3 linked regions of the Homo sapiens genome follow. The protein of the gene in region 1 interacts with the protein of each later gene in a pairwise test. Each region holds a gene or a part of one and is shown in the gene's direction. Other genes may lie near its edges.

Region 1 (7,004 bases):
TGTTACTCTTTACATACTGTTTATTTTTGTTAGTTTTTAATTGAAGATGGACTGTTGAAATTGTATAGGACCAGTGTCTTATTAATATGATTAATATATTTAGAAGAGCCACGTGAAACCCATGACAAAATGAATGTGAATATTCTTTCTAAAAATTTAGAAAATGTTATCTTTTTGCATTTATTATGTAAAACTGTTTTACAGTATCAAAATTTTTCACTTAAAGAAAAAAAATGCCATGAAACATTTGAACTGATGAGCCACAGAACTTCAGTTGAAATTTTTTTCACTTTTTAGCATGCTAAATATACATCTGAGTTTAAATGTTCTGTTTAATGGCCATTCATAAATTCAAGCACTACCACTGGTCAGTTTTGTGTGATAGAATAAAAATATGTTACCTGCAGTGTAAGTACAGCACACTGTCAAATTCTTTTCCTTAAGGTGCACAGTAAATGTACAGATAGTTATAGGCCACTGTTTTGTAATGTAGTACATTTCTAATCTATTATTCCTAACCTATTATAACTGTTTGCAGAAAGAAAAGAATTTTTCTAATAATCTGTAAAATTATGCTAACTTCTACAAGTAGGCTTCTAAATAAAATTTTTAAAAAGAGCAAACGGTGATCAAGTGACTTTTAATACAATATGATGACTAAATTATTGCTAATTTGTTTTAATCCCCCCTTTTGTGGGGATAGGGATAGCTGCAAAGGATGGCAAAGGGCTTGAAAGGGATTCAACAGTGAGAATCCCTGAAGTATGCTTTGCTTGGTGCCTTATATTCATTCTTCTCGAATCCTCTATGAGAACCTTAGGTGGACGTTAGCCAGATTTTATACATGAAGATGCTGAGGCTCAGAGAGGTTGAAAGTCTCCAAAAGCTGCGGAGTAAGAGTGGTAGCCGACTCTTACTTTAAGAGTAAAAGCACAAGTTTGAATCTGTATCTCCGTGGTACACTTAAATAGAACTCTAATAGCACTTCACTTCTAAATGTCAGGAATATAATCCACTGCTTGAATCTATATTGAGTAATGTAACCCCTTTGTTATGAGTAGCACCACAAAAAAACCCTACTATTAAACATATACGAAATCCATATGAAAGGGTTTTTTTTTCCCCCCTCAGATCACCTATTAGTCCATACTGAGTCAACATCAGATGAGTTCCGAGACATCATTCCTCTCTGGTTTTCCCCCACCCTCCTTTCTTCCCATTCTTGCTCTCTGCTCAGGGTCCAGTTGCTTCTGGCTGTCATTTGGTTTGGTTTTATTAATTGGGGAGAAAAAGATGGGAGGGCCTGCCGGTTCCTCCTATCTTGTTCATAGCAATAAGGATTAAGGAAAACGGCCCCTCATTGTCCAACCTCGTGAAACATCTACAAGATCATTTTCTTGCTAATACTGGCATGCTTCGACTCTAGATGATGTATGTTGTGCCATTATGCTAGTTGAATCTTCTGCATCTCACAAAATATCACTTGTGGGAATAATAAACCAGGAGAGTGGTGACCTACCACAGTAATTTGGTGGGTGCGTCAGAGGCATCTGAACCAGAGCAACTCCAGTAATTTGGTGGGTGCGTCAGAGGCATCTGAACCAGAGCAACTCCATCTTGAATAGGAGCTGGGTAAAATGAGGCTAAGATCTAGGCTGCATTCCCAGATGATTAAGGCATTCTAAGTCACAGGATGAGATAGGAGGTTGGCACAAGATACAGGTCATAAAGACCTTGCTGATAAAACAGGTTGCAGTAAAGAAGCCAGCCAAAACCCACCAAAACCAAGATGGCCACGAGAGTGACCTCTGGTTGTCCTCACTGCTATACTCCCACCAGCACCAAAGACAGTTTACAAATGCCATGGCAATGTCAGGAAGTTACCCTATATGGCCTAAAGAGGGGAGGCATAAATAATCCACTCCTTGTTTAGCATATCATCAAGAAATAACCATAAAAATCGGCAACCAGCAGCCCTTGGGGCTGCTTTGCCTATGGAGTAACCATTCTTTTATTCCTCTTTCTTAATAAACTTGCTTTCACTTTATGGACTCGTCCTGAATTCTTTCTTGCATGAGATCCAAGAACCCTCTCTTGGGGTCTGGATTGGGACCCTTTTCCTCTAACAGGTGTAATATAAATATCTGTTGAGTGCTAACTATGCCAGGCACTATGCAAAGTGTTTAGTGAACATTCTCCACCTACTCAAAACCTCTTGAGATTTTTATTTTGTATATGTTATCTCCACTGGTTTTTTTGGCGGGGATTGTTTTGTTTTGAGACAAGGTCTCGCTCTGTCGCCCAGGCTGGAGTGCAGTGGTGCAATCTTGGCTCACTGCAACCTCCCTTCCCGAGTTCAAATTATTCTCATACCTCAGCCTCCAGAGTAGCTGGGATTACAAGCATGCACCACCATGCCCAGCTAATTTTTGTATTTTTAGTAGAGACGGGATTTTGCTATGTTGGCCATGCTGGTCTTGAACTCTCGGCCTCCTGTGATCTCCCACCTCGGCCTCCCAAAGTCCTGGAATTACAGCCATGAGCCACTGCGGCAGGCCCATTGTTTTTAAAGATGAGAAAAGCAGAGATCAAAGAGGTTACTTGGTGAATGCCACAGGTAAGGAAATGACAGAGCAAATCCAGGTCTGAATCCAAAGCCCATGCTCTCAAGTGCCTGTGTTTTAGGCCAGGCAAGGTGGCTCATGCCTGTAATCCTAAAACTTTGGAAGGCCAAGTTGGGAGGATCACTTGAGGCCAGGAATTCAAGATCAGCCTGGGCAACACAGGGAGACCCTGTCTCTACTAAAAGAGAAAATAACCAGGCGTAGTGAGGCACAAAGCGACTTGAAGGCTAAGACAGGAGGATCACGAGCTCAGGAATGCGGAGCTGCAGTAAGCTATGATCTCGCCACTGCACTCCAGCCTGGGCGGCAGAGTGAAACTTCATCTCTTAAAAAACAAAAAAAATGTTATAAGAGACAGTATTTTCTGTCTTTGGGTTATATACAATAATCCTTGGCCATGTGTTTTAAAGCATACTGTTGATCACCGACGTGATTAATGGATTTAAATCTGCACAGCGGCTCATGCCTGTAATCCCAACACTCTGAAAGGCCGTGGCAGGTGGATCATTCAGGTCATGAGTTCGAGACCAGCCTGGTCAACATGGTGACATCCCCATCTCTACTAAAAATACAAATATTGGCGGGGCACAGTGGCGTATGCCTGTAATCCCAGCTACTTGAGAGGCTGAGGCACGGGAATCGCTTGAGCCCGGGAGGCGGAGGTTGCAGTCAGCCGAGATTGCGCCACTGCACTCCAGCCTGGGCGACAGAGCGGGAGTCCATCTCAAAAAATAGAGACTTCGCATCATTTCTGCTTAATATATTTGTGGTGTCTAGAGTTTTATTGTGATACCTGAGTCTAGGAAATGTGGTAAAGCCTCTGCAGCAGACATAAAGCCTGCAATTCATGGCTGTGGCCAGGCTCTCCTCACCTGTCCTGCATCTACAAATTATTTCCGTTATGGTAAGGAGAGCAACTCGTGGGGAATGTGGACAGGAACATGCGTGAATCCAAGGCAGAGGTTTTGCCCCGGAAAAAGCAGCTTCTGGCAGGGGATGAAAGCCAGCAGAGTTCCAACCGGGGTGCCCTCTCCTTCACGCAGGCCCCACTACCGTGTTGACTTAGGAAGAAAGTTTCTCGGGAGACTAAGGGATTTGGGGGCAGCGGACGCCACTGGAGGGAGATGAATTCACCTAGGGAGCCGGGGAGGGGCTTAGGGTTGCCGCTCCAGGCACAGCTGCTGGAAATCCTAGTCTGTTTTTTCTGCCTTCGCGTACAACGGGCCAGCTCACCCCACCTGGCAAAGCTGCAGGGCTTTTCCACCAGGCGGACAGAAGGGCAGCCCTCTCGCCCAACCAAGAAGCCGTGCTACCCCGGCTTCGACTCCTGGCTTCCGGGTTTTCTCCCCGCCTATTCCGTTTCCGGCCGTTCCCACCCCTGTTTTCGGTCGGCCCGGGTGTTCTGCAAGCTGGTCAAAAAGGGGAAGCGGCCCAGATATGTTAAGTTCTATGGCCGCTGCAGGGTCTGTGAAGGCGGCGTTGCAGGTGGCCGAGGTGCTGGAAGCCATCGTGAGCTGCTGCGTGGGGCCCGAGGGACGGCAAGTTTTGTGTACGAAGCCCACTGGCGAGGTGCTTCTCAGCCGGAATGGAGGCCGCCTCCTGGAGGCGCTACACTTAGAGCATCCCATAGCCAGGTACCCGCGTCCCACACGCTAACCCGTAGCCGGGCACCCCAGGCAGCCTCTGTGGAGCTCTTGTCCCATCCTGAGGCGATGCGTACTTAGAAAGACTGACCTCGGGTGAAACCGCTGTATGCTCGGAATTAGAGCCCTGCCCAAGGGAACACTCCTGCACCCCAAATCTTACCAATTCTCAAGACCACTTCTCCCCACTCCACCCAACGGTGGAATCTTGGAATAGAGCAGAGTTTTTTCCAAGAAAGGAAAAAACTAAGGATGTATCCAAGGAACAATATTCTCATTTTATGCTTATGGCTGTGTAAACATGGTTTTAAGATGTGGGAAGCCAGCCTTCTGAAAATGAGTTGCTTTATTTCTTTTTTGTACAGGATGATAGTGGACTGTGTTTCCAGTCATCTCAAAAAAACAGGAGATGGTGCAAAAACATTTATTATCTTTCTTTGCCATTTGCTTAGAGGACTTCATGCAATCACAGACAGAGAAAAGGATCCTTTGATGTGTGAAAACATTCAAACCCATGGAAGGCATTGGAAAAATTGTTCTCGGTGGAAATTTATTTCCCAGGCTCTCCTAACGTTTCAGACACAAATATTAGACGGTATTATGGACCAGTACCTAAGTAGACACTTTTTGTCTATCTTTTCGTCTGCTAAAGAGAGAACATTGTGTAGGAGCTCTTTAGAGTTGCTCTTAGAAGCATACTTTTGTGGAAGAGTGGGAAGAAATAATCATAAATTTATTTCACAGTTGATGTGTGACTACTTTTTCAAGTGTATGACTTGTAAAAGTGGGATTGGTGTATTTGAGTTAGTGGATGACCATTTTGTAGAGTTGAATGTTGGTGTCACTGGCCTTCCTGTTTCAGATTCCAGGATCATAGCTGGTCTTGTGCTTCAGAAAGATTTTTCTGTGTACCGCCCAGCAGATGGTGACATGCGAATGGTGATAGTAACAGAAACCATTCAGCCTCTTTTTTCCACTTCTGGATCAGAGTTTATTCTAAATTCAGAAGCACAGTTTCAGACATCTCAATTTTGGATTATGGAAAAGACAAAAGCAATAATGAAACATCTACATAGTCAGAATGTAAAATTGCTCATATCTAGTGTGAAACAACCAGATTTAGTTAGTTATTATGCAGGGGTGAATGGCATATCAGTGGTTGAGTGTTTATCATCAGAAGAAGTTTCTCTTATCCGGAGGATCATTGGTCTTTCTCCATTTGTACCACCACAGGCCTTTTCGCAGTGTGAAATACCTAACACTGCTTTGGTGAAATTTTGTAAACCTCTTATCCTTAGATCCAAAAGATATGTTCATCTAGGCTTGATAAGCACATGTGCATTTATACCACACTCTATAGTTCTTTGTGGACCAGTGCATGGTCTCATTGAACAACATGAGGATGCTTTACATGGAGCACTTAAAATGCTTCGGCAATTATTTAAAGACCTTGATCTAAATTACATGACACAAACCAATGACCAAAATGGCACTTCAAGTCTTTTTATTTATAAGAACAGTGGAGAAAGTTATCAAGCACCAGATCCTGGTAATGGCTCAATACAAAGGCCTTATCAGGACACAGTTGCAGAGAACAAAGATGCATTGGAAAAAACTCAAACATATTTAAAAGTACATTCTAATTTGGTAATTCCAGATGTAGAATTAGAAACATATATTCCGTATTCAACCCCCACACTGACACCAACAGATACATTCCAAACAGTTGAAACGCTGACATGTTTGTCTTTGGAAAGAAACAGGCTAACTGATTATTATGAACCATTACTCAAGAACAATTCCACTGCTTATTCAACAAGGGGAAATAGAATAGAAATTTCTTACGAAAATTTACAGGTCACAAATATTACTAGAAAGGGAAGCATGTTACCAGTGAGCTGTAAGTTACCGAATATGGGTACTTCCCAGAGTTACCTTTCCTCATCTATGCCAGCTGGTTGTGTTTTGCCAGTAGGTGGTAATTTTGAGATCTTGTTACATTACTATCTTCTCAATTATGCCAAAAAATGCCATCAATCAGAAGAAACCATGGTTAGTATGATAATAGCTAATGCACTTTTAGGCATTCCCAAAGTCCTTTATAAATCTAAAACAGGAAAGTACAGCTTTCCACATACATATATAAGAGCTGTCCATGCACTGCAAACCAATCAACCCTTGGTAAGCAGTCAGACAGGTTTGGAATCAGTAATGGGTAAATACCAGCTACTAACTTCAGTTCTTCAGTGTTTGACAAAAATATTAACCATTGACATGGTAATCACTGTTAAGAGACACCCTCAGAAAGTTCACAATCAAGATTCAGAAGATGAACTATAACATCAGAAGTTTTTAATTAACCAAACTTTTCATCTAACTCAAGCCAAGTAAAGCAGTCATGTGACCACTGGTTCTAAAGTCAGTTCAGTCTACTTAGGAAAATAGCGTAACTTTAAAAGTCTTTAGAAGAAGCACACTAAGGTCACCAGACCAGATACAAATATTAAATTACTTTATGGAACAAATCTAGAGGGGAAGCCAAGATTTGGCTAAGTGTGTCTGTTTTTTCCCTATTTTATGCCTCTGTGTCTCAGCTCTGTGTTAGCCTATGTGTTTAGGGGAGGGTTTTTCTTTATAGCTCCTTTTTACTCTCCTGTATCTTTTTCACTCCAGCCCTCCTTCATCGTTACATGTTTAGTTCATAGAATCATTTAATCTCTGATTTGGGTGGGCTTAT
Region 2 (7,115 bases), on another chromosome or scaffold:
TACATTCGGACAGTTATATGGATAGTAGTGTGAGAAAGATAGAGAGTTTCTCAGTAACAGTCTCTTCAAGTGGTTTCTTAAATGTTTTTACTAGAGTGGCAAAGATGGGATAGAAAAGTTCTTTACTCAATTTTTGAAAATTGATTGTCTGAATCCCCACATTTGTAAGGTTTTATAGGAAAACAAAAGTTATAACTTGAAGATATTCAGTAAGGAAACTGACCACTTAACATTAGTCACCACATATCCTTTCCTGCTTAATGTTGCCATGTATCCCCACTCATGTCAACAATAGAGATTGCTAAATAGTACTTTGGCCAATATAATGCAAATATAATACAGATTGGTTTCAAAATGGAATTTAAAATTTTGAAAAACATAGAGAATTTCATGAAATTGATAAAAATAGTAAGAGGACTATTCAATCATATGCAGAGCCACAAAGTGAGGCCACTTAATAACTGAAGAATAGAAAATCAGGGAGGATTATTATAGGATAAGCTCTTCAGAGAATAATTTTAATATAAAATTTTTTAATAGAACTTGGAGGTAGAGGAATACATGAAACATTCAAATAAAATTACCCTCTTTATGATAAATATGGTAATAACAACCTAGAAGTGAAAAATATATCACACTTAAATATAATTTTTGTCAAGACATTTTAGCTCACCCAAGTGAAAACTCAGTTCAGTCTAAGAATTAGAATATAGTTATGACTATTGACTAAATTTTGTTAAATGTAATATGAAATAAACTTGTTTTCATTTCTTTTTTCAAGATAAAGTTCTAATGAAATCTTTTTTTTTCTGCTGTTTATCATTTAGTTTGAGGTAGAATCACTTAAAATAGACTTTTTCAGGCAATTTAGTGTGGTAGTAAGAAAGCTAACTCGAGCAAAAAACTGAGTTGCAGTCTAATCTACTACTTAATACTTAGGTGCCATTAGGCAAGTTATTTTACATTTTATTATTCACCTGTAAAAGGAATAATAATGGTCCTTATTTTATAGAGTTATGATGATTAATTGATCTAATACATAAAAATCACTTAAGATAGTGCTTGGCACATAGTACACAAAGAAGTCATTTTTTGATGTATTAATTGTCTTTGGATATAGACAGTTAAATTATCATTATCTTGTCTTTGTTTTCCATTTTTCTGAGCTCAGTTTTTATTGAGAAGCCCGAGGCCTTAACATCCTCATTTTCAGCTTTCAAAATCAAAAACAGTGTTATACCAAAAATACTAGGAATTAACTAGGAGAAAGTTTTAAAAACTGTGTTCTCTAAGTCTATAATAAAATGTTAGTAAACTGTATACATTTTTCTGTTTTTATCTCTGAAAAAAATTCAGTACCTGTGCTTATTTTTAAAAATTACTATTTTAATGTTCTCAGGCACATATCTGGCTCAGACCTCTTTCTCAGTGCAAGTTACATCTATAACCATTATTGTGACTGCAAAGACCAACATTATTACCTTTCTGGGGATAAAATCAATGATGTGATCTGCCTTCCAGTGGAAAGATTATCTCGTATCACACCTGTATTGGCCTGCCAGGACAGAGTGCTCAGAGTTTTACAGGTTGCTGTTATTTGTATTTTTCTAATTTTTTATATTATGTGAAAGAATATCAATGAACATTATGTACTTGAGATAAATTAGTGGTTACTGTTTTAAGGGCTTTTATAAACATGTGGAAACAATTTTTAAATAATTTGACATATTAATTTTTTTAACTTGAGTCAAATGTGTTGTTTTGTAAGTTTTTAAGAGAAGCATATTTGGAAGAAAAAGGATTTTTTTTGCCTCACCATACACAATTTCTGAGCTATTATCAGAATGGAGTACTTTGACTACAGAGAACCTTTACCTGCCTTTTTGTTTTGTTTTCTTCTTCCATCACCTTTATCTTCCCCAAAAATCAAATTAAAGGAAGAAATTGGGTTGGAGGGAGGATGTTATATAACTTGAGTTTATCCAGTGTTTATGGAAGTATATGGAATAAGCACTCAGTAAATATATGTTGGATAAGTAAATGAGTGATAGAGGGAAAATTCATTTTGATGTCCTTATATTTCTGGTAAAAACCACGATTGGCTAAAACAACTGCTTCAGGTCATTGTTATGAGTAATAATAGTTACCACTATATCTTCTTGAGAGTGACTTTCAATAAAATATATGCACACACACACACACACACACTCTATAGGATGCTTAAAATAATGTTTAAAGGTAAATAGCATGTAACAGTTAGATGAACTGTATCAGAAACAGGCTGATATAGTTGGTGCAGTTGATGAAAAAGTTGAGCTGTGAAGTCCATGCCACCACAGGCTATCTCACTCTTTGGAATTCCATAGTCAGATGGCCATTTCTTGGCATCAGCCCTTTTGTAAAAGGAAAAATCCAGTGAGTCTATGAGGTTTTTACCCCCCAGGGACAAAGTAATGTTAAAGGTTCATTTTAGGCCAGGCATGGTGGCTCACACCTGTAATTCCAGCACTTTTGGAGGCTGAGACGGGAAGATCATTTGAGGCCAGGAGTTTGAGACCAGCCTGGCCAACATGGTGAAACCCTGTCTCTACTAAAAATACAAAATTAGCTGGGTGCAGTAGCACACACCTGTAATCCCAGTTACTCAGGAGGCTGAAGCACAAGAATCACTCGAACCCAGGAGGCGGAGGTTGCGGTGAGCTGAAATTGCATCACTGCACTCCAGCCTGGGCAACAGAGGGAGACTCCATCTCAAAAAAAAAAAAAAAAGAAAAGAAAAAAGGTTCATTTTAGAGTTATGAATGATTAATTTCCCCCATAGCCTATGCTTTTAAATATGAATTGTTTTGAACAAGGCTTTTAACAGGAGCTGTTTAGCATTCAATTAGAAATTGACTGAATTCTAGGATTCTGCTTTGACAAGAGATCCATATGCTTATTATTTTTAAAATAATTACTAAAGATCTGTAGAAAATAAAGTTGAAGTCTTTCCCTCTGCACCGCATGCTTTTTTCTCACTCCCCGTCTATCTCTGTGAATAATCCATTACTCCAGAGGTTGCCTCTTTTTAACAGTTTTGTGTATATTCTTTTGTGTTTATATAGTTACGTGTAGATATCTGTAAATTTTAATATGATATTTTAAATAAAAGATAAAACAGGCTGGGCACAGCGGCTCAGGCCTATTACCCCAGCACTTTGGGAGGCCGAGGTTGGAGGATCACTTGACTCCAGGAATTCAAGACCAGCCTGGGCAACATAGCGAGACCCCCATCTCTTAAAAAAAATTTAGCTGGGCATGGTGGTGCATGCCAGTAGTCCCAGCTACTCAGGAAGCTGAGGTGGGAACATCATTTGAGCCCAGAAGGTCGAGGCTGCGGTAAGCTATGATCACACCACTGCACTGCACTCCAGCCTGGATGACAGAGTCAGATCCTGGCTCAAAAAAAAAAAAAAAGATAAAGCATATGGCTTTCTTACGTTTTCTAAATAAACATTAAACTTTTTTTAGTCCTGATGTGGTGGCTCACGCCTGTAATCCCAGCACTGTGGGAGGCTGAGGCAGATGGATCACCTGAGGTCAGGAGTTCAAGACCAGTCTGGCCAACATGGTGAAACTTTGTCTCTACTAAAAATACAAAACTTAGCCAGGCATGGTGGCCTGCACCTGTAATCCAGCTACTCGGGCAGCTGAGACAGGAGAATCACTTAAACCCGGAAGGTGGAGGTTGCAGCGAGCTGAGGTCACAGCATTGCATTTCAGCCTGGGCAACAAAGCAAGATTCCATCTCAAAAAAAAAAAAACATTAAAACAAAAATGTCATACCATATTAACTATAATTTTGCAAATTGTGTTTTCTTTTTTTTTTGAGATGGAGTCTTGCTCTGTCGCCCAGGCTGGAGTAGTGGTGCAATCTTGGCTCACTGCGACCTCTGCTTCCCGGGTTCAAGCAATTCTCCTCCTTTAGCCTCCTGAGTAGCTGGGATTACAGGCATGCACCACCACACCTGGCTAATTTTGTATTTTTAGTAGAGACGGTTTCACCATGTTGGTCAGGCTGGTCTTGAACTCCTGACCTGATGATCCACCCGTCTTGGCCTCCGGAAGTGCTGGGATTACAGGCATAAGCCACCACACCCCATTTTGCAAATTTTGTATTCATTGAATTATAGATCATGGATATTTTTTCCATGTGAGTATAAGTACTTCTAACTCATTCTTTAACAGCATCACAAATACTGTGCCCAAAATGACAAGCATTACAAGTAGCAAAATTGAAAAACTGATAAATATATAAGGACCTAACTTGTTTTTTTATCTAAGTAGCAGGTCATTCAGCCTCTGACTGGAGCAGATTTTGGGAATACCCAAAGGCAAGGCCAAAATTTTCCTTAGGAAGTAACTTTGTGTCTGTTAAAATATTTGGATGTATTCCAAGTTAAAGACTTCCAGTTAACCTAGAGAGGGCAGAGGGAATAATTTGTTCCTAGAGACTTGATAGGAAAATCTGCCAGTGTCAAGTTTTCAGGCAAACAATGTATTTAAAATGTATTAAAGGTAGAGAATATTTTAAATGTTTTCTTCTTGGTCTTTACATTTTATATATATATATATACACACATATATATGTACATATACATATACACATGTACATGTACACATATATACATATATACACATACATGTATGTACATATATGTACATATACATATATACACATACATGTGCATATATGTATACATATGTGTATATATGTATACATGTGTGTACATATCTGTATATATACGTATATATGTATACATTTATACGTATATATGTGTATATATGTTGTTTTCAAATCAGTTGATATATGCAAAATTGCTAACAAATGCAAGTTGTATTCGTAACCTAATTTTTAAAGCAATTTTATTCTAGGTGTTACTAAGAGTACTGTATTTGAATATTGATGTTATTCATGAATGCCTCTATTATTTTCAGTTTGTATTCTGTTTCAGTTTTTAAATACTTCTCCTTCAGGGATCTGATGTGATGTATGCAGTTGAAGTTCCTGGACCCCCTACTGTCTTAGCACTACACAATGGAAATGGCGGTAATCAGGATTTTATTTTTCACAAATCAACTATGTGTTTTAATAGTAAGTGAAAATGGGAAATTGTAGAAAGGACATAAACTAGAATTGAGACAGTTGTCTTTCTGGTAACTTGCCAGTAACTAACAGCACGAGTTATTGAACTTTTAATTCTCCGTTTTTTTCTTTTTTGGGGGGCTGGGGGGCAGGGTCTCACTCTGTCTCCCAGGCTGGCGTGCAGTGGTACAATCTCAGCTCACCACGGCCTCGACCTCCCAGGCTCAAGGGATCCTCCCACCTCAGCCTCCCTAGTACTACAGGCGCACACCACCATGCCCGGCTAGGTTTTTGGTATTTTTTATAGAGACAGGGTTTCGCCATGTTGCCCAGGTTAGTCTGGAACTCCTGGGCTCAAGGGATCCTCTCACCTCAGTCTCCCAAAGTGCTGGGATTACAGGCATGAGCCACGGCACCCAACCTAGTTTCTTCATCTTAAAATTATATAATGGGGAAATGTCTTATCTCTTATAGCTATAAAATTGTGTGAATATATAACCATTCTCAACAATTAAGTTTTATATCTTTTTATAGTACTTTTTAAAATGATATTTTTACATAACAACATTTTAATTTTAAAGAGATTACTAATTGTAGGATAAATATAATATGTTGACTTTAATTATAAGTAGGTGACTCTGGAGAAGACCTTTTGTTTGGGACATCAGACGGAAAACTTGCGCTTATACAGATTACTACATCCAAACCAGTACGCAAGTGGGAAATTCAAAATGAGAAAAAGAGAGGAGGTATGCTTTTCATGTAGTTCAGATTCTGAGGTGTCAATGATTATTAAGTATCTTAAATTATATAATTTATTCTATTTTATCTATTTATACTACATAGCAGACTTAGCAATTCACACCTTGATTTATCTACTATTTGTTTATTTGTCAGGTCTATTATACTATTGGCATAATTTTTTAAAAGTAAGAAATGCTGATAGTAATTTGGTATTGATACGTTTTTATAGGCTAATATCATTTTATGCTAAAATCCAATTTTAATTGGATTTTAATTGTCTGAGGTAATTTAGTTGTTTGAGGTACAGAATTAATTGGAATCTGGGAGTCTTTGTTATGAGGCAAAGAAGAAGTGCAGTGGGTCAGAGAATATTCCTGTTTTCTAAGGAATTTATACCTTTCTAAGGAGAATTTATAACTGATTAGGTAGATAGTGAGATGCCTATGTATATGTTCAGGATGTTCATATATTCATTTATTCCTTCAACAAATACTTATTAGGAGAGACAGAGTAAAAACAAATAAATACATAAGACAGCTTTACCTAGTCACCTGAAGAAAATAAAACAGGGCTGTGTATTAGAGAGTGATGGTAGAAGGAGGAGGGTCACTTTTAGACCACGTAGTCAAAGATAGCCTCTTAGAAGAGGTGAAATTTGAACTGAGATCTGATTGATAAGAAAAAGAGTTAGCAATATGAAGATTTGGGGAAAAAAATGTTTCAGGAAGAGGAAAAAGTAAGTGTGAAAGATTTGAGGTGGAGGTAGATTTGATTCATTTGAGGAACAGTAGGAAGGTCAGTCAGTTTGGCTAAATGCGTTAACATGGCAGGAGATGGAGTCAGAGAGGTAGAGTAGAGCCAAATTGTGTAAGCCTTGGAAAACAGTTTGAATTTTAATCTAGGTGCTGTAGGAAGTCATTAGAAAATTGTCAGTGGGAGTGTGACACTTAATTTACTAAGCCTAAACAAAACAAAGGACACTGGAGAATGGATTGGAGGGGGCGGGGGGCAACAGGTCAAAACTGGAAGCATGGAGACCAGTTAGAAGAGTTATTATAATTTATTCTAGTCTAGGCTAGCTTAGTCTAGGCTATCAGTAGCTGGAAACATAGACAATTTCAGTATATATTGTGGAGGTAGAGAAGATGGAATTTGCTAGCAGTTTTGATATGAGGGGTGGTGAGAAAAAGAAAGAAATCAGATGTGGCCCAGAATTTTTGTCTGAGCAGCTAGGTAGAATAATTTA
Region 3 (7,080 bases), on another chromosome or scaffold:
ACATACAATTCTAGTTTCAATCAAATAAAACCTCTTGTGTTGACAAGACAAAATTAAAACCTTCAGTTTTCATTTCAGTTGTGCTAAAAATGAACCAGGTAGTGTCACTATAGTTAATTTTCTATGAGTCTTTCTTGCTCCAAAGACAACTTGGTTATCAGAAAGTGTTTGTGTGGAGCAAGTGGCATCTGTTGCCTATTTGTCAGGAGCAGAAGTCTGAGCACTTCTGTCCACTGCATCTTGTTTCAAAGTCGCCAAGGAAAACAATGCAGTGAAACACTGGGTGGAACACACATTACTCACATACAGAAGAGACAGAGCAAGATCAGCTTCCCTAGTGGACTTCAGTCTCCCATGACCAGAGGGTCCCTCTTGGCAGCTGACACAGGGCAGGTGGCCTGCAAACACTCCTCTTGTGCTGAAGGACCCCCATCCCCTCCCCCACAGGAGACAGAGCAGTGGGGTTGGTCAGATGCCATATGATGCACACACTTAAGCAGGGCAAAGGACTACACATTGACTCTGAAACAGAGGAAGATATTACTATACGGGGTGGTAAGTTCAGCACAGGCTCTGTGGACTCCTAGTCTCTTCAAAAGAAGTGTTCCAGGCCCAAGGCCCACTCTCAAACAACTGAGTAGGAGTTAAAAGACTGTATGTATGAGATTCCGTTTCCCAACAGTTTGGCTCTTTCACAAGGAAGAAATCACAAGAGTCACAGAATTGAAAATGAGTTAGAAAATACACAGTTATCTTGAAAGTTTTATCCATAGGGAAGCAGCATAATGAAGAATAAGAACTTAAGATTTGGAATCCATGTTTTATTTCTTATCAATGGGCAACTGGGGAATTTTTAAAACTTCTCTGAACTTTAGTTTTCTTGTATGTAAAATGGAGCTAATACAATCAGCTTCCAACTTGTAATATGTTTACTGAGGTTAACACATAAAATCTCGGCCAGGCACGGTGGCTCACCCCTGTAATCCCAGCAGTTTGGGAGGCTGAGGTAGGCAGATCATGAGGTCAGGAGATTGAGACCATCATGGCTAACACAGTGAAACTCCGTCTCTACTAAAAATGCAAAAAATTAGCTAGGCATGGTGGCAGGTACCTGTAGTCCCAGCTACTCGGGAGGCTGAGGCAGGAGAATCTCTTGAGCCCAGGAGGCAGAGGTTGCATTGAGCCGAGATCGCACCACTGCACTCCAGCCTGGGTGACAGAGGGAGATTTTGTCTCAAAAAATATATAAATAAAATTTTTTAAAAATAAAACTCTACACCACCTGTCCTAGCACAGAGGTATTAAGTGCTCACTATAGAGTCAAACTTACAGGGAAATATGGGTGATGTAAGTGCTATTTTGAATTTTCTTTATAACTAAAAGAAGAAAATTAGCAAATAATGTTTCCAGACAGTTCTATTTAATACTTTATGTATTTGAGTAACTGACTAAAAAGCAAATGTTCATCAGGTTTTTTTGGGTTGCACAAAAGGAAAATATAAGTTTTGTTTGCCAAATTCATTTGGATGTGAAGCCAACTTCATCAAACTTTAAAATTCTAAGTCTTTGTGACCTAAGGTTCTCAAAAGAGCAGCTAGAATCAATACTGTTCTTGGATTAATGGCTCAAAGAAGTCATTATGTTTTGTTTCTTGATGCTGTAGATTTAACATCATATTGGTAGAGATGTGTAACTTCTTACATGGATTAGACATCAAGAAGCCAATGTGTACATATAAACTAAAAACTGAAAATGAATACATTCAGATATTAAATTATAAAACTGCATAACAAATACAAATTTGTTAATTTTCCACAAGGACTAAAACAACGCTATTAATAACGAGTAGTCTTTTTCATCACTCTCAAAACATCTTCCTCGTTTATTTCTCCATCTCTATCATGATCAGCTTCATCAAGCATTTCCTGTAAAACAAAATGTAAATATATGAAATACATTTAAAATGACATAAATGAAGTCAAACACATATTCAAAACCAAATTTTATTTTAAATGCATAAGTGCAACTAAAGTTAGAATTATAATCCTAAATTATCACATAAGTTATAATTACATATAAATTATAATTATAAAAATAAGCAAAATCTACCTGAAGTTCATCATGTTAAATTTTCCCCTGGTTTCTTAGCAAACCTCTTGATACCGGTTAGTATTATACTTCCAGTATCATCATCATCAAATAATTTGAAAGTCTTCAATATTTCTTCTTTTTCATCTTTTTTACTCTTTTAAAAAAGAAGCAACTATCCAGTCTTTCATTTATTTATTTTATCAAGCTGGACTTAATTAGATCTTTGGGGTCTAAAGCAGCAATGTGCCAAGTAGCTGTGTTCTGATTTTATTTATTGGTCTTTTAACAATTATGTACTCACACCTGCCCTCAAGGTGCTTAAAGGTAGAGCTTGCTAAGGTGGAGAAGGCACAGGGTGGTCCAGAATGCATCTCTTATTAAACCTCATAATTCAGATCCGTTACCAAAAATGTAAGCTTCAAAATGGAAGGTTGTATCTTTCAATGCTCCTTAGAATAGTGCCTGGCAAAAATAGGCATTCAATATATGTTGCTGAATTAAAGGCTTCCAAATTCTGGCCCCATTCTCTCTATCCTGCAATATAGCCTCATTATTTCCTGACAAAAACCTCTTCTCCACATCATAGTCTTCTCATTACTACCCTGAAAACATATTTAATCTTGCTCTTCCTATCTCCCATCCTTAAAAACCTAGTTCTAATTGCTTCTCTATAAAACTTCTGATTGCTCCAGCCCTAAAATGTAGCAGGTTATTGCTAGTATTTCTTTGAAAAATAAAATCATAACTATATCATTTTTATACTCATAATGGCAAAAAAAAATCTTCAAAACTAATGGTGCCAATTCCTTCTTTATCAACTTCAGCTACCATTTTTTAAATTTCTTCTTTCTTTGGTTCAAATCCTAAGGCCCACACTGCAATCTGAAATAGGAAGAAAAGGAATTATAATATGCCATGATTTCTTTCTAAGCTTTTTAACTCCCTATTAAGAGCTTCTCTCTTTTCTATTATGGACTGAGCATAAACAGAAAATTAGGTCAGCAGGCCTGTGTTTCAGTCCTACTGTGCCATCATGTACATCACTGTTACACCCTGGGCTTTTGCCTACTCATTTATAAAACACAATTAAAATGCTTAACAAGATATCGTTTTGCTAATGCAGGGCAGGCATATGCACTGAAGAGACTTTATATTAAGCTTTCAGAAGACTACTTTTAAAGAAAGCCTTAAAGATTGCCACAAATAATATGGTTTTTAAAATGATTTAGAATTAGAAATAATTTCAGAACCTTCTTTTACATCGATGGTTCCAGACCCATCAATATCAAATAAATTAAAGGCGTCTTTAATTTCTTGCTTTTGGGATTCATTCAGTTCAATTTTTGCTGCTCTTTTCTTCCATTGGTCTGAACTTGTATGGTAGTTAGATGCCTGTAATACACACACATATGGGTGAAAGATAAATTATATAACTGGAATAGTTAGCAGAACCAGAATAATTGATGATAAACTATATTAAAGTACCTATTTCCTACTATAAAATGAATCTCAACAGGAGTAAGGAAGGAGTGCAGTTGCTGCCAGGGGCAGCCTTCCTTGCTCTGGCGGAAAAACTTCGGCCCCGGCCCCAGCAGAAGGTTACAGCTTCACACTCACCAGGTCCCCAGCCGGCAGCCGGCGCTCTCAGCCGGGACCTCCCGGCGTCACCTCCCGCAGCCCCGCCCAACCCAAGTCTTCACAGCTCACTGGCGGTTGCTAAGGCCGCTCTCACCGACCTCTCTCAGCCCCGCCCACCCAGCCTGAGTTATTGACATCCAGTTCATCCAATGGACAGAAAAAAAGGCCTTTAAACCAGCCCTTTCTCTCTACTCCCTACCAATAGCGTGACGTCCCCGCCTTTCGCAGCCCGGCGTTAAGCGGAACTTCTCTCTCCAGCTGTGTCTCTTAGCAACTAAGCCCCCGGCTCCTCCAGAAGCCCCTCTTCGCACATGCGCAAACTGCGGACGGGGAACTGGGCTCCCTAGCCCTGGCGTTTTTGGTGTTGCTGTCCCAGCCAGAATCGCGTCTGGCCGGTGGGAAGCCGGGAACTCCAGCCCCCTGTAGGAGAGGAGAAAGGAGCGAGGTTAGTAGTGAGGTGCTTCCGCTGACTGCTAAGCTAAGTCTTTCCTGAAGACGTGGGAGCCCGTGTGTTTGATTTTTCTGTCCTCTTCGGGCCAGGGAAAGAATGAGAATCTAGGGCCTGGAGGTCCTGGGGTGAATTGGTCCAGCATGTGGCTAGGAGTACTAGAGGAAGAGGGGACTGCCCTTTCTTTTTGCCGCTAGACTTTCCTCATTTTCTACAGTGCCTGGAGCTGGGCCTTCAGCCATTTACCTCCTCCCTGTTTTGGGCAGGGATTCTGGCATGGTAGACACCAGAATTCTGTATAGCAGTGGCATGGGGTAACAGTGTCGTTGGAGGGACGTGGGTATTGGGATAAGCATGGGTCTTGGGATGTATTTAAAGCTTCACTACATACATAGATAAACGTTTTTACATGTTTCGTGTAGCATTTGTTTACGAGGTAGGACTTTGGCCCCACCCATAATTACTATCGGACCCCGCCCTCCAACCCCAACACACACACACACACACACACACACACACACACACACACACACACACATCCAGCCATTTCCTTGGCCCAGTCCTAAGATTTGGCCAGTTGTCAACGATATCAACTTGATCTGCACTTCAGAGTCAGACACAGGTAGTCTGATTATCCAGTTGATTCAGTAACGGCCTAGATTTAGATACTTGTGAAACTTTTGTAAACCAACTCAATCTCTTGTCCAGAGGGCCAGATTTACTGCTTCTGCCCGTTCTGAATTTGGCCAGGAATCAGCTTAAAGGACAGGGGAGAAAGACTGAGGTAGGATGGACCACTGACTTCCTGGTGGGAATGAAGGAATGAGAGAATCTTAAAACTTCTAACCTTTAATTGCTCACACATGCGGACCCCTTTTATGCCTCCTACAATGTCTTCTCTAGAGGAAATATTTTCTAAAAATTATACTGGATTCTTCAAAAATGGATTCAGGAAGAATACTAACTTTAGTCTTTTTTTTTTTTTTTTTTTTTTTGTCTCACTTATCTTCCTGAAGGCAGGAGAGGAAAACAAGTGCAAAGTGCATTCTTGAAGCACTCTGTCAAATCACTTTTCATGCTTCATTGAGTAGAAACATGGCACATTTTCCAAAGCCATCAGCCTGTCTTGTTCATATTATATCCCAGACAGACACGCAAGTATTGTAATCATTGATAAAAATCTCATTAGGCTTCTGGAAAATAGGTAAGTTTATCCTCATATTGCAGGTGATTTTTCCATATAAAGTTACCCAGTGAAAATTAAAATGGCACAAATCCAAGATAATTTTTGAGTTAAGTAAAATGTGGTCACTTTAATATATGATTTTTCACGTCATTTATCTCACTTGGAAAGTTGCTCTTGATCAGTTTCAAGGTCATACACTTTTTTTTTTTTGAGACCGAGTCCTGCTCTGTCGCCCAGGCTGGAGTGCAGTGGCTCAATCCCGGCTCACTGCAAGCTCCACCTCCCGGGTTCTCGCCGTTCTTCTGCCTCAGCCTCCCGAATAGCTGGGAGTACAGGCGCCCGCCACCGCGCCCGGCTAATTTTTTTGTATTTTTAGTAGAGACGGAGTTTCACCGTATTAGCCAGGATGGTCTCCATCTCCTGACTTCATGATCCGCTCGCCTCGGCCTCTCAAAGTGCTGGGATTACAGGCGTGAGCAACTGCGCCCGGCCATATACTTCATTTTTAATACTAATATTAAAAGGATTTCTTAGACCCAGAAATGAATAGTGACCAAGTATATACTCAACCCAATCCTAATTTCGAGGATCTCTTGGATCATGTTTGATCTAATGACAATTAAATGGCGGAGTAGTATATTAACCTATTTTTATATCACTATGATTTAGGCTTTTATATTTGGAATATTTACTGCTAGTTAAAATGTTTTTTTAATTGTAGGCTCAGATTCCAACTCCCAGATCTTGAATAGGATGTAATTAGTTTTGAAAACTAGCTATTAACGAATCTAACTGCACTTTAGAACATTAATCATCATCATTATCCAGGAAAACATTAAACACATAGGCACTCTTAAATCTCCCAAATGTATTTAATGTTTTCTATATGTCATGCACTATGCCAACTACTGGGTGAGTTCGAAAGAAATAAAAATAGAATATAAAAGATGAATAACTAAGGAATCTACAGATTAGTGGGGGAGCTAGACACAAACATAATACAATGTTTTTAATACAGGGTATTTTTAATCTGCTTTGGTAGATGGGTATAGAAAGTGCGTTGGGAGCACAGAAAGGAGGGACAACTCTACCCCAGGGCATTAGAGAAGTCCTGATAGGAAATGAGGCATTTGCGTTGGGTCATGAAAGATCTATAGCATCTATGGAGATGAAGAAAATATAGACTATTCAAATCAGTATAGCTTAGTGAAAATAAATATGTTCTAGCGTGACAAGATCATGAGGTTTATAAGGAAAGGTGGGAGAAGAGTCATAAATTAGGTTGAGGTTAGATTATAAGGCACATATATCAAGCCAAGGAGTAAAGACTTTCTTTTTTAAGATAAATAGATGTTTTTTGGCAGTGGAGTAATCTGTTTAGGTTTGTGCTTTTTCAGTGCTAATTCTGACCACCATATGAAGGAGGAACTCTCATTAGAAGCAATTAAAGGGCCTCAACTAAGGCGGTGCCAAATAGGAATCAAGTCAACTCCAAGGATGGTTAAAACTTATATTCATGTTGGAGAAATACTAAAAGTACCGTCTGTTTTCTCTTGCTTCAGTTTTGTACTTAAATTTGGGGGAACAAATATGGTGAAAAAAATTCATTCACTTACCAAATATTTATAGAGTACTTGCTGTGTGTCAGGCAATATTGTAGGTACTCGGGATATACATCATTGACTAAAATTGCCTTCCTGGAAATTACATTCTAAGA

What was found.
Region 2: the proteins of BBS10 (region 1) and BBS7 interact in binary tests that used the Homo sapiens proteins (3 or more experiments, as listed by UniProt).
Region 3: the proteins of BBS10 (region 1) and BBS12 interact in binary tests that used the Homo sapiens proteins (3 or more experiments, as listed by UniProt).

The regions. Positions count from the first base shown.
Region 1 is NC_000012.12:76,345,416-76,352,419, reverse strand, and holds the start of BBS10 (BBSome complex assembly protein BBS10), read left to right. Parts: upstream 1-4,004; 5' UTR 4,005-4,061; coding exon 4,062-4,258; intron 4,259-4,632; coding exon 4,633-6,607; 3' UTR 6,608-7,004. UniProt on the Homo sapiens protein: Probable molecular chaperone that assists the folding of proteins upon ATP hydrolysis. Plays a role in the assembly of BBSome, a complex involved in ciliogenesis regulating transports vesicles to the cilia. Involved in adipogenic differentiation.
Region 2 is NC_000004.12:121,853,463-121,860,577, reverse strand, and holds part of BBS7 (BBSome complex member BBS7), read left to right. Parts: intron 1-1,399; coding exon 1,400-1,586; intron 1,587-5,016; coding exon 5,017-5,089; coding exon of another isoform or gene 5,090-5,134; intron 5,135-5,754; coding exon of another isoform or gene 5,755-5,757; coding exon 5,758-5,874; intron 5,875-7,115.
Region 3 is NC_000004.12:122,728,711-122,735,790, forward strand, and holds the start of BBS12 (chaperonin-containing T-complex member BBS12), read left to right. Parts: upstream 1-3,993; 5' UTR 3,994-4,174; intron 4,175-5,193; exon of another isoform or gene 5,194-5,381; intron 5,382-7,080. UniProt on the Homo sapiens protein: Component of the chaperonin-containing T-complex (TRiC), a molecular chaperone complex that assists the folding of proteins upon ATP hydrolysis.